Linked DNA regions of Homo sapiens. The protein of the gene in region 1 purifies or fractionates together with the protein of each later gene. This does not show direct contact. Each region holds a gene or a part of one and is shown in the gene's direction. Other genes may lie near its edges.

Region 1 (4,760 bases):
GGGCCATGTAGGAAAACAAGGGTCCTGGCCAACCACAGTGGCTCATGCTATAATGACAACACTTGGGGAGGTGGGAGGATTGCTTGAGGCCAGGAGTTTGAGACCAGCCTGAGCAACATGGCAAGTCCATGTCTCTACAAAAGAGAAAAAAGAGATAAAACAACGGTCCTTATTCTTCTCAAGGCTCAGGGGCCCTGACCCAAAGAAATGGAAAATGAGGGGATGGGAAGAGGGGATCAGGGCTGAGAAGACTGGGGTGGCTGTCAAGAACAGATGAAACCTCGGTGCTTCTCTTGCTGGAACATATGTTGGTGGGAGGTGGGTGGCAGGACATCTCCATCTGGTCACTCACTAATTCCAAACTCCATGTTGCCTCCCATTATAGGGCTTCTTTGAGCTGTTCCCTTCTCTAAGCCATAATCTCTTAGTGGATTGAGCCCTCTTGGAAAGACTTCTCTGCCATCCCTTTGCACCTGAGAGGGGAAGTTCTCAGCTGAGCTGAAGCTGGATTATTAAAGTGGATTGTCACTCAGACTCTCCGTGCTACGCTTATTTGGAGACTAGAGGAGTGGGAGTTGAGCCTGGCTTGAACCTTTGGAACCAGAAAAGTTGGGGAGCAGGTGGAGGAGGCCACACTCCTGGGAGCTGATGGTTTTAAATCTGGTTTTAAATCTCTTCTCTGTCTCAAGTCCATGTCTGAAGTGGGTGAAGGGTGGACTGGATCCTCAAGCAGAAGGTCACTTCTCCCACCCCTAGTCCTCCACCTGGGAAATGGCCTCAACGGTCTTCCCTCTTTCCATCCCCAGAATGGGTGTCCCGCTCTGCCTTCAGAGATCCTGTTCTGCACTGGGCCACCTTCAGAGCTGCTCTGGGCAGACAAAGCTGTTTCTCACCCTCCCAAAATCCCTTCCCATCCCCTCTCAGGAGCTGCAAAGAGAAGGGCACAGTCTATACCTTATCACCCTTCATCATCCACTTCTCAGCAGTCCCTGGTATTACTTGATTGTGAACATATTATCAGGAAAAAAGATTATCATTGAAAAAATTGGAAAAGTCAAAGTCTGGCCGGGTGCAGCGGCTCACATCTGTATTCCCAGCATTTTGGGAGGCCAAGGCAGGTGGATCACTTGAGGTCAGAGTTCAAGACCAGCCTTGCCAACATGGTGAAACCCATCTCTACTTAAAAAAAAATACAAAAAAATTAGCCAGGCATGGTGGCACACACCTGTAATCTCAGCTATTCAGGAGACTGAGGCAGGAGAATAGCTTGAACCAAGGAGGCGTAGGTTGCAGTGAGCTGAGATGGAGCCACCACACTCCAGCCTGGGCAACAGAGCAAGGCTCTGTCTCAGAGAAAAAAGGCCAGGCGTGATGGGTCATGCCTGTAGTCCCAGCACTTTAGGAGGCTGAGGTGGGCGGATCACCTGAGGTCGGGAGTTCAAGACCAGCCTGACCAACATGGAGAAACCCTGTCCCTGCTAAAAATACAAAATTAGCCGGGCGTGGTGGCACATGCCTGTAATCTCAGCCACTCCGGAGGCTGAGGCAGGAGAATCGCTTGAACCCAGGAGGCGGAGGTTGTGGTGAGCCAAGATCCTGCCATTGCACTCTAGCCTGGGCAACAAGGGTGAAACTCTCTCAAAAAAAAAAAAAGAAAAAGAAAAAGTCAAAGCCTGCTTATAAACCAACCTCCTTCCTTCCACTAAAATAATTGTGCAAACTGGTGTCCTTCCAATCTTTTTGATACCTATATAAAAGTTTATTTCCATATAAATATTCCACTTCAGCTTTCTAAAAAACTTAATATAATATAGAGATATTTCTATATCAATACATATAAATTTAATTTAGCAATGGCAAAAAGTTAGAATTCATCTAAAGATTTCTCAGTAAAGGCAAGCCCAAATACACTATGAAATGTCCATTATAGGTAGCTATTGAGAAAAAGATAAATTGTATAGTGTGTGTACTAACATGAAGAGATTACAAAGACATTGTTGAGTAGAAAAGGCAGGTTGCAGAACTGGACACAGGACAAGGAGTACCTTCAAAACATTATATGGCCAGGCACGGTGGCTTATGCCTGTAATCCCAGCACTTTGGGAGGCCGAGGTGGGCAGATCACTTGAGGTCAGGAGTTCAAAACCAGCCTGGCCAACATGGTGAAAACCTCTCTACTAAAAATACAAAAAAAATTAGCCATGCGTGGTGGTGGGTGCCTGTAATCCCAGCTACTCGGGAGGCTGAGGCAGGAGAATAGCTTGAGCCAGGGAGGCAGAGGCTGCAGTGAGCCAAGATTGAGCCACTGCACTCCAGCCTGGGCGACAGAGCCAGACTCCGTCTCAAAAAAAAAATTATTATATATTTTTATGTGTATATAAATATGCACGTAGATGTATACATGTATAGAAAAAGCCTGGAAAAATGCACCTGAAACTTTTACAGTGATCTTCTGGGTTGGGAGTGACAAAAGGGCCTTAGCCTTTTTGTAATGGTTTCCTTTTGTATAACAGAATGTACCATGTATTACTTATGTAAAAAATTTTACCCTCACACTGTATTTACTCTTACAATTGGCGTACAGTATTTTATTGTATAGATGGTCATTATTTATTCAGTCTGTTAATAATGGTCATTTAAGTTTTTCTCCAGTTGACAACTCTAAATAACATTGAGATAAATGTACATATATCATTGTACATTTGCCTTGGTTTTTCCCATGGGATAAATTCTAGAAAATGCCAGCTGAACTATAGTGACAGCAGACCAGTGGTTGCTTGAATGTCAAGGATTGAGAGAGAGTTTGGTTGCAAAAGGGTGCAAGAAAACTTTTAAGAGGGTGATAGAAATGTTACCCCAGAGGTGGAAGAAAATCCACATATAAATGGACCTGTGCAGTTCAAATTCATCCACTTACATGTGGATTTGTCCCAATAAAAGTTATACCGGCCAGGTGCGGTGGCTCACACCTGTAATCCCAGCACTTTGGGAGGCTGAGGTGGGCGGATCATGAGGTCAGGAATTCGAGACCAGCCTGGCCAACATGGTGAAACCCCATCTCTACTAAAAATACAAAATTTAGCAGGTTGTGGTGGTGGGCGCCTGTAATCCCAGCTACTTGGGAGGCTGAGGCAACAGAACTGCTTGAACCTGGGAGGCGGGGGTTGCAGTGAGCGGAGATCGCACCACTGCACTCCAGCCTGGGCAACAGAGCAAGACTCCGTCTTGGAAAAAAAAAAAAGTTATACCAAGTATGCCTGGCTCTCCTGAACCCCCACCCCTGCTACCCCCTATTCTACCTCCTCCGCCTCTTCTCCCACTGTTGCCCCAACCAACCCTTCTCTTCCTCCTCCTTGGCCTACTCAACATGAAGACGACAAAGATGAAGACTTTATGATGATCCACTTCCACTTAATGAATAGTAAATACATTCTCTCCCCCCCCCACCTTTTTTTTTTTTTTCAGACAGTGTCTTGCTCTGTTGCCCAGGCTAGAGTGCAGTAGCAAGATCTTGGCTTAGTGCAACCTTCACCTCCCAGGTTCAAGCGATCCTCCCACTCAGCCTCCTGAATAGCTGGGACTACAGGTGCCCACCACCATACCCAGCTAATTTTTTAATTTTTTAAAGAGACAGGGTCTCACTACATTTCCCAGGATGGTCTTAAACTCCTGGCCTAAGCATTCCTCCTGCCTCAGCATCCCAAAGTACTGGGATTACAGGCATAACATTTTCTTTTCTCTAGCTTATTTTATTGTAAGAATACAGTGTGTAATACATAGAATATACTTCATATGTGGTAATCTGTTTATGTCATCAGTAAAGCTTCTGGTCAACAGTAATTAAGTTTACAGGGAGTTAAAAGTTATACATGAAGGCTGGGTGCAGTGGCTCATGCCTGTAATCCCAGCACTTTGGGAGGCCGGGGTGGGCGTGTCACCTGAGGTTCGGAGTTTGAGACCAGCCTGACCAACATGGAGGAACCCTGTCTCTACTAAAAATACAAAATTAGCCGGGCATGGTGGCACATGCCTGTAATCCCAGCTACTCGGGAGGCTGAGGCAGAAGAATCACTTGAACCCGGGAGGCAGAGGTTGTGGTGAGACAAGATTGTGCCATTGCACTGCAGCCTGGGCAACAAAAGCGAAACTCCATCTCAAAAAAAAAAAAAATTGGGGTATTATTTCCATATAATAAATTATACACTTAAAGTGTAAAATTCTATGAATTTTGACAGATATACCATATACACCTGGGAAACCACCACCACAATCAAGATACAGAACCTTTCCATCATCCTCTTGTACCCCTTTGCAATCAATCTCTCTCTCCACTCCTGACGTCCAAGCAACCATTGATCTGCTTTCTGTCACTATAGATTAGTTTACCTTTTTTAGAATTTTCTTTTCTTCTTTTCCTTTTTTCTTCTGAGACAGACTCTCATTCTGTCACCCAGGCTGGAGTGCAGTGACGCCATCTCGGCTCACTGCAACTTCTGCCTCCTGGGTTCAAGCCATTCTCCTGCCTCAGCCTCCTGAGTAGTGGGGATTACAGGTGCGTGTCACCACGCCCAGCTTTTTTTTTTTGTATTTTAGTAGAGGCGGGGTTTCATCATGTTTGCCAGGCTGGTCTCAAACTCCTGACCTCAGGTGATCTGCCCACCTCAGCCTCCCAAAGTGCTGGGATTATAGGCGTGAGCCACCACGCCCAGCCCCTTTTATCTTCTCTTCCTCTTTCTCCTTTTTTTTTCCTCCTCCTCCTC
Region 2 (5,075 bases), on another chromosome or scaffold:
GAGGTTTCTCATCTGTCAGTAGGAATGATAACACCAACTTGGAAGGTTTGTGTCTCTGGTGCCTTGTCTGGCTACAGAGTAGGCCCTTAAGTATTTCACCCCCCTGTTAGGTCCATGTCTGAATTCCAATCATAGGTGCAATGGGAAGTTGAATATTTAGTAACTGAAGTACAATATGGAAAAACAGAAATAGAGAACACATTTGGTATTCATGTCCCAAAAACTTTAGGGAGAAATTGATCACCTGACCATTTGGTATTCAAGGTCCCAAATACTTTGGGGAAAAATTTGTGGTATTAAAATCAGGTATCAATTACTTGATAACTCCTTGACTTTCGATGTTACCCTGGCAGGTTCAAAGGGATGACCTTGATTTTTTTTCTCTTTAGGCTGTGGAACCCTACTAATATTGGATCCAGATGAAGCTGGGCTAAGGCTTTTTAGAAGGTAAGGGGGCTGAAATTATTAAAGGTATATATTGTTGCTATTAAAGCCTTAATAGAATTAGGTTTTGACTCTTTGATTAATGTTTTAATATACAGTATAAAAGGAACCTTGGCGTTTGCATAGGATGAAGCTTATTTTTAGCTGATTGTGGTGGTGCGCACCTGTAGTCCCAGCTATTCCCAAGTCTGAGGCAGAAGGATCACTTGAGGCCGGGAGTTCAAGACCAGCCTCGTGGGCAACATAGGAGGACCCCGTCTCTAAAAGAAATTTTTTTTTTTTATGCACAGAGTCTGGCTCTGTCACCCAGGCTGGAGTACAGTGGCGCCATCTTGGCTCAGTGCAGTCTTCCCCTCCTGGGTTCAAGTGATTCTCCTGCCTCAGCCTCCCAAGTAGCTGGGATTATAGGTGCCCGCCACCACACCCGGCTAATTTTTGTATTTTTTAGTAGAGATGGGGTTTCATCATTTTGGCCAGGCTGGTCTCAAACTCCTGACCTCAGGTGATCTGCCCACCTTGGCCTCCCAAAGTGGGTATTATATGCGTGAGCCACTGGGCCCAGCCTAAAAATTTTTTTAATTTTTAGGCCGTAGTCCCAGCTACTTGGGAAGCTGAGGTGGGAGGATTGCTTGAGTCCAGTTCAAGGCTGTAGTGAGCTGTGATTGGGCCACTACACTCCAGCCTGGATGACAGAACAAGACTCTTTCTCTCAAATAAAAAACAAAACAAATCTGAAGCCTGTCTCTTAGTGTCCACTCATAAATTATAAAATTTAAACATAAAAAAATGTGGAGCAGTATACTGTGTACTATTACATTTTTGGACTACTACATTCCACTGGACTGTTTTTTTTAACCTTTCTGAATCTGTTGCCATATTTGTCAAGTACCTACTCTACTTAACTCCCGTAGTTGTGCAGATTACATGAGATATACGTGTTAAAATGTGTGATAAATTGAAAGAAAAAAAACCATAATTGTTATTTTTTTTGTTGTGTAGCTGCCTATGTAAGTGTTGTATTTTTTTGTTGTTTGTTTTTTCCTAGTGTAGCTTTGACTGGAATGATGGTTTGTTTGATGTGACTTGGAGTGAGAACAACGAACATGTCCTCATCACCTGTAGTGGCGATGGCTCGCTGCAGCTCTGGGACACTGCCAAAGCTGCAGGGCCACTGCAAGTCTATAAAGAACACGCTCAGGAGGTAGGAGGGAAATCTTTCTGGGCTGATTATTTTTCTTTCTTCGACTTTGGTTGAAATCCATTTGGGGATGGACACATGGAGAAATATCTTCAGGGGACAAGTTTAAACGTTAGCATTTCTTATACATACTAGATGTCACTTATTATTTGATTATTCAAACATAAAGTACCTCTTGGCCTAAGGAGTGGGGAAAGAAAAGAAAAGGTCAGTCTTCTCATTAGGCAGAAAGAACACCTCCAGCAGTGTACTCTGGCACCATTTCCTCCTGAGAGGCCCATCACTTTCTTTGTGCTCTAAGAATGTGCTTGCCACATGGTGCCTTAAGGTAGAGGTAGGTGGACTTTTCACATAGACATCACAAGATTGCCTTTGGGGCTTCAGTGAGATTCCCGAGGTGTTTCAGAGTATATTGGAGCAAGAGCATAAAATACTGAGTATGAGGCAGAACTTACTGAAGGGATTTTATATCTAAATCTGGTTCATGTGTCTAGATTTTGTGTGTGTGTATGTATAGCATAGAAAATAGTTTGGGCTTCAGTTGTACTAACATACATGTATATTTTCAGTGAACATAAAGACATCCTCTTTTTGTGTTTTTACCTTAAATGTTTTAAGATTTTCCTTAAGGGAGCAGTACATCCTTCAGATGAAAACTTGCTAATCTACTTTCAAATTTTTGTCCACCACAGTGCCTGGCCCGAGAAGGCCCTCAATAAATGCTTATTAGATGCAAGAATATCAGTCTTTTGTGGTAAAGATTAGTTATGTGAGGGGTCCAGATGTTTTATAGCTGTAGCTATTGACAATCAAGATTTCTAAGATTGTTACTGAAATAATGAAAAATTTTAGTTTCTATTTTAATTATGATAGCTATTTGAATAAATGTAGTTGTAAATTACTATGTTTTCAGGGAATTACTGAATATTAAGACAATTTTGGTAAAGGAGAAATTTTAGTTTCAGGATAATCAATGCACGAATCTCTACAGAACAGTATGTCCAAAATTCAGATACTTTTGTGGAACCTGTGTGAATTTGTGTGTGTGTGTGTGTGTGTGTGTGTGTGTGTGTGTGTGTGTGTCAGGGTCTCACTCTGTTGCCCAGGCTAGAGTGCAGTGGTGCAATCTTGGCTTACTGCAACCTCCACCTTCTGGAATGGGCTCAAGCCATTCTCATGTCTTAGCCACCCGAGTAGCTGGGATTACAGACGTGCGCCACCGTGCCCTGCTAATTTTTGTATTTTTAGTAGAGACGGGTTTCACCATGTTGGCTAGGCTGGTCTTGAACTCCTGGGCTCACATGATCCACCTGCCTTGGCCTCCCAAAGTGCTGGGATTATAGGCGTGAGCCACCGTGCCCAGCCAATTTTTGTGTGTGTGTGTTTTTTTGTTGTTGTTTTTTTTTGTAGAGATGGAGTTTCGCTATGTTGCCCAGGCTAGTTTTTGTGATGTTTGACATCTTTTTATACCACTTGTATTATAATGTATTTCTTTTCCTTCTTTCTTTTTTAAAAAATATTTTTCTTTTCAGAAGTTTTTTTTTTCCTTTTTCTTAAATCTTTGGTGCCTTTTATTATCTATATAAATTCAAGGATGATAACTGACATCATAAAATAATATAGCTAGTTAAGGTAAATTCAATATATTGACTTAATGTTTTTCTTTCAATCAAGTAAAGTCGTTGCTTCATTTATCCTAAAACAGTAATATTCATGAAACAATGGGGTTGATGGCTACTTTAGTATGTACATTTATTTGTTTTTAGTGTACATTGAGATAAGTAAGTAATGAATAAAATAAATGTATGTACCAGTTAAAATAATCTCTGGTGTAACTACTCTCTGGAAAATACTGTTCTAGGATATCCTGGATGGATGCTCACTCAGTCTTTACTTCCTGTCAGTGAAAGTAAATTTCACTTTCTCTTGAGATAACTTATTTGACTTTTAGGTTGTTCTGATTATTAAGAAACTGCTTCTTGTAATCCCAACTCTACCTTCTATAGCAACCAACTGCTGCTTTTAGTGTCTTTCTCTGAAGTGGCAAGACCAGGTCCAGCCCCTCTTGTCCAGGAAACCTCTTGAAAATAGCCATCGTGCTCTCTTCCAGACTGTGCACTTGTCATTTCATTGTCCTGTCCTCAGATGACATGATCTGTACGTCTTTCATCCTTCTGATAGCCTCCTTTGATAATCCTGTTTTTCAACTCCCCTTTCAACATATACCTAATTTATTCCAGAAATGTGATGAAGGGCTAAGCTTTATAAGATTTTACCACCATAGTCTTGAGCCCCTAGCTCTAATAATATTACCTAAAGTGGCTATACATTGTTCTCAGCCATGTCTTAGTGTTAGGTTACTTTGAGTCTGCTAGTAACACACTTACCTCTTTTGTTATTTGAACTGCTATTAAACCAGTTTTACATCATTCTGTGATTTTGCAGCTGATTTCTTGAACCGAAGACACACTTCTGTTTTTTAATTTTTTAAATTTGTTTTGCGTACTGCTATTCTAGTTAGACTTCCTCGTTTTCTTTTCAAATGCACTTTTTGGTAAGCGTTTGTATCAGGATGCCTTGAATGTTAGTGTAATAGAAAACAATTAAATGGCTTCAACAGTCAGAGTTTACTGTTTCACATATTTTGCTTGGTTATGTGAAAAATAAATGAAGATAACCTTTTTAGGTATTTGTTACAGCAGCACCCCTAATTCTTGGCACCAGTTTCTGCCTCAGTCTGTTCAGGCTGCTGTAACAAAGTATTATAGACTGGGTGCCTTATAAAGAACAGAAATTTATTTCTTACTATTCTGGAGGTTGGAAGTCCAAGGTCAGGGTGCCCACATGTTTGGGTTCTGATGAGGGCCCTCTTTTAGGTCAAAGACTACTGCTGTCTTTTCATTGTATCTGCAGGTGGTGGAAAGAGAATGAGAGAGGTTTGGGAAATCCCTTTTATAAGAGCACTAATCCCATTCATGAGGGCTCTACATTCATGACCTAATTACCCCCCAGAGGCCCTACGTCCTAAAACCATTACACTGGGGGGTTAAGATTTCAACATGTGGGTTTTGTGGGGATATATTCAGTCCATTGCATATGCCAGATACTCAAAAATACTTAAAAGGATTTAAGCTCAAATGAGAGTTTTAAGGAGCTAGTAAATATTTGTTGAATAAATTAATAAATGAGGCTGAGTGCAGTGAGTCATGCCTGTAATCCTAACACTTTGGAAGGTCGAGGTGGGCAGATCACTGAAGGCCAGGAGTTTGGGACCAGCCTGGCCAACATGGCGAAAACCCCGCCTCTACTAAAAATAAAAAAATTAGCTGGGTGTGGTGGTGCACACCTGTAGTCCCAGCTATTTGGTGGCTGAGGCACAAGAATCATTTGAGCATGGGAGGTGGAGGTTGCAGTGAGCTGAGTTCGTGCCATT

Evidence for each region. Proteins that work in one complex are often made in the same cells at the same time.
Region 2: the proteins of DNPEP (region 1) and PEX7 purify together in Homo sapiens (co-immunoprecipitation; one large-scale study listed by IntAct). This does not show direct contact.

What each region holds. Positions count from the first base shown.
Region 1 is NC_000002.12:219,369,968-219,374,727, reverse strand, and holds the end of DNPEP (aspartyl aminopeptidase), read left to right. Parts: intron 1-385; coding exon 386-436; 3' UTR 437-2,685; downstream 2,686-4,760.
Region 2 is NC_000006.12:136,824,825-136,829,899, forward strand, and holds part of PEX7 (peroxisomal biogenesis factor 7), read left to right. Parts: intron 1-389; coding exon 390-447; intron 448-1,494; coding exon 1,495-1,645; intron 1,646-5,075. UniProt on the Homo sapiens protein: Receptor required for the peroxisomal import of proteins containing a C-terminal PTS2-type peroxisomal targeting signal. Specifically binds to cargo proteins containing a PTS2 peroxisomal targeting signal in the cytosol.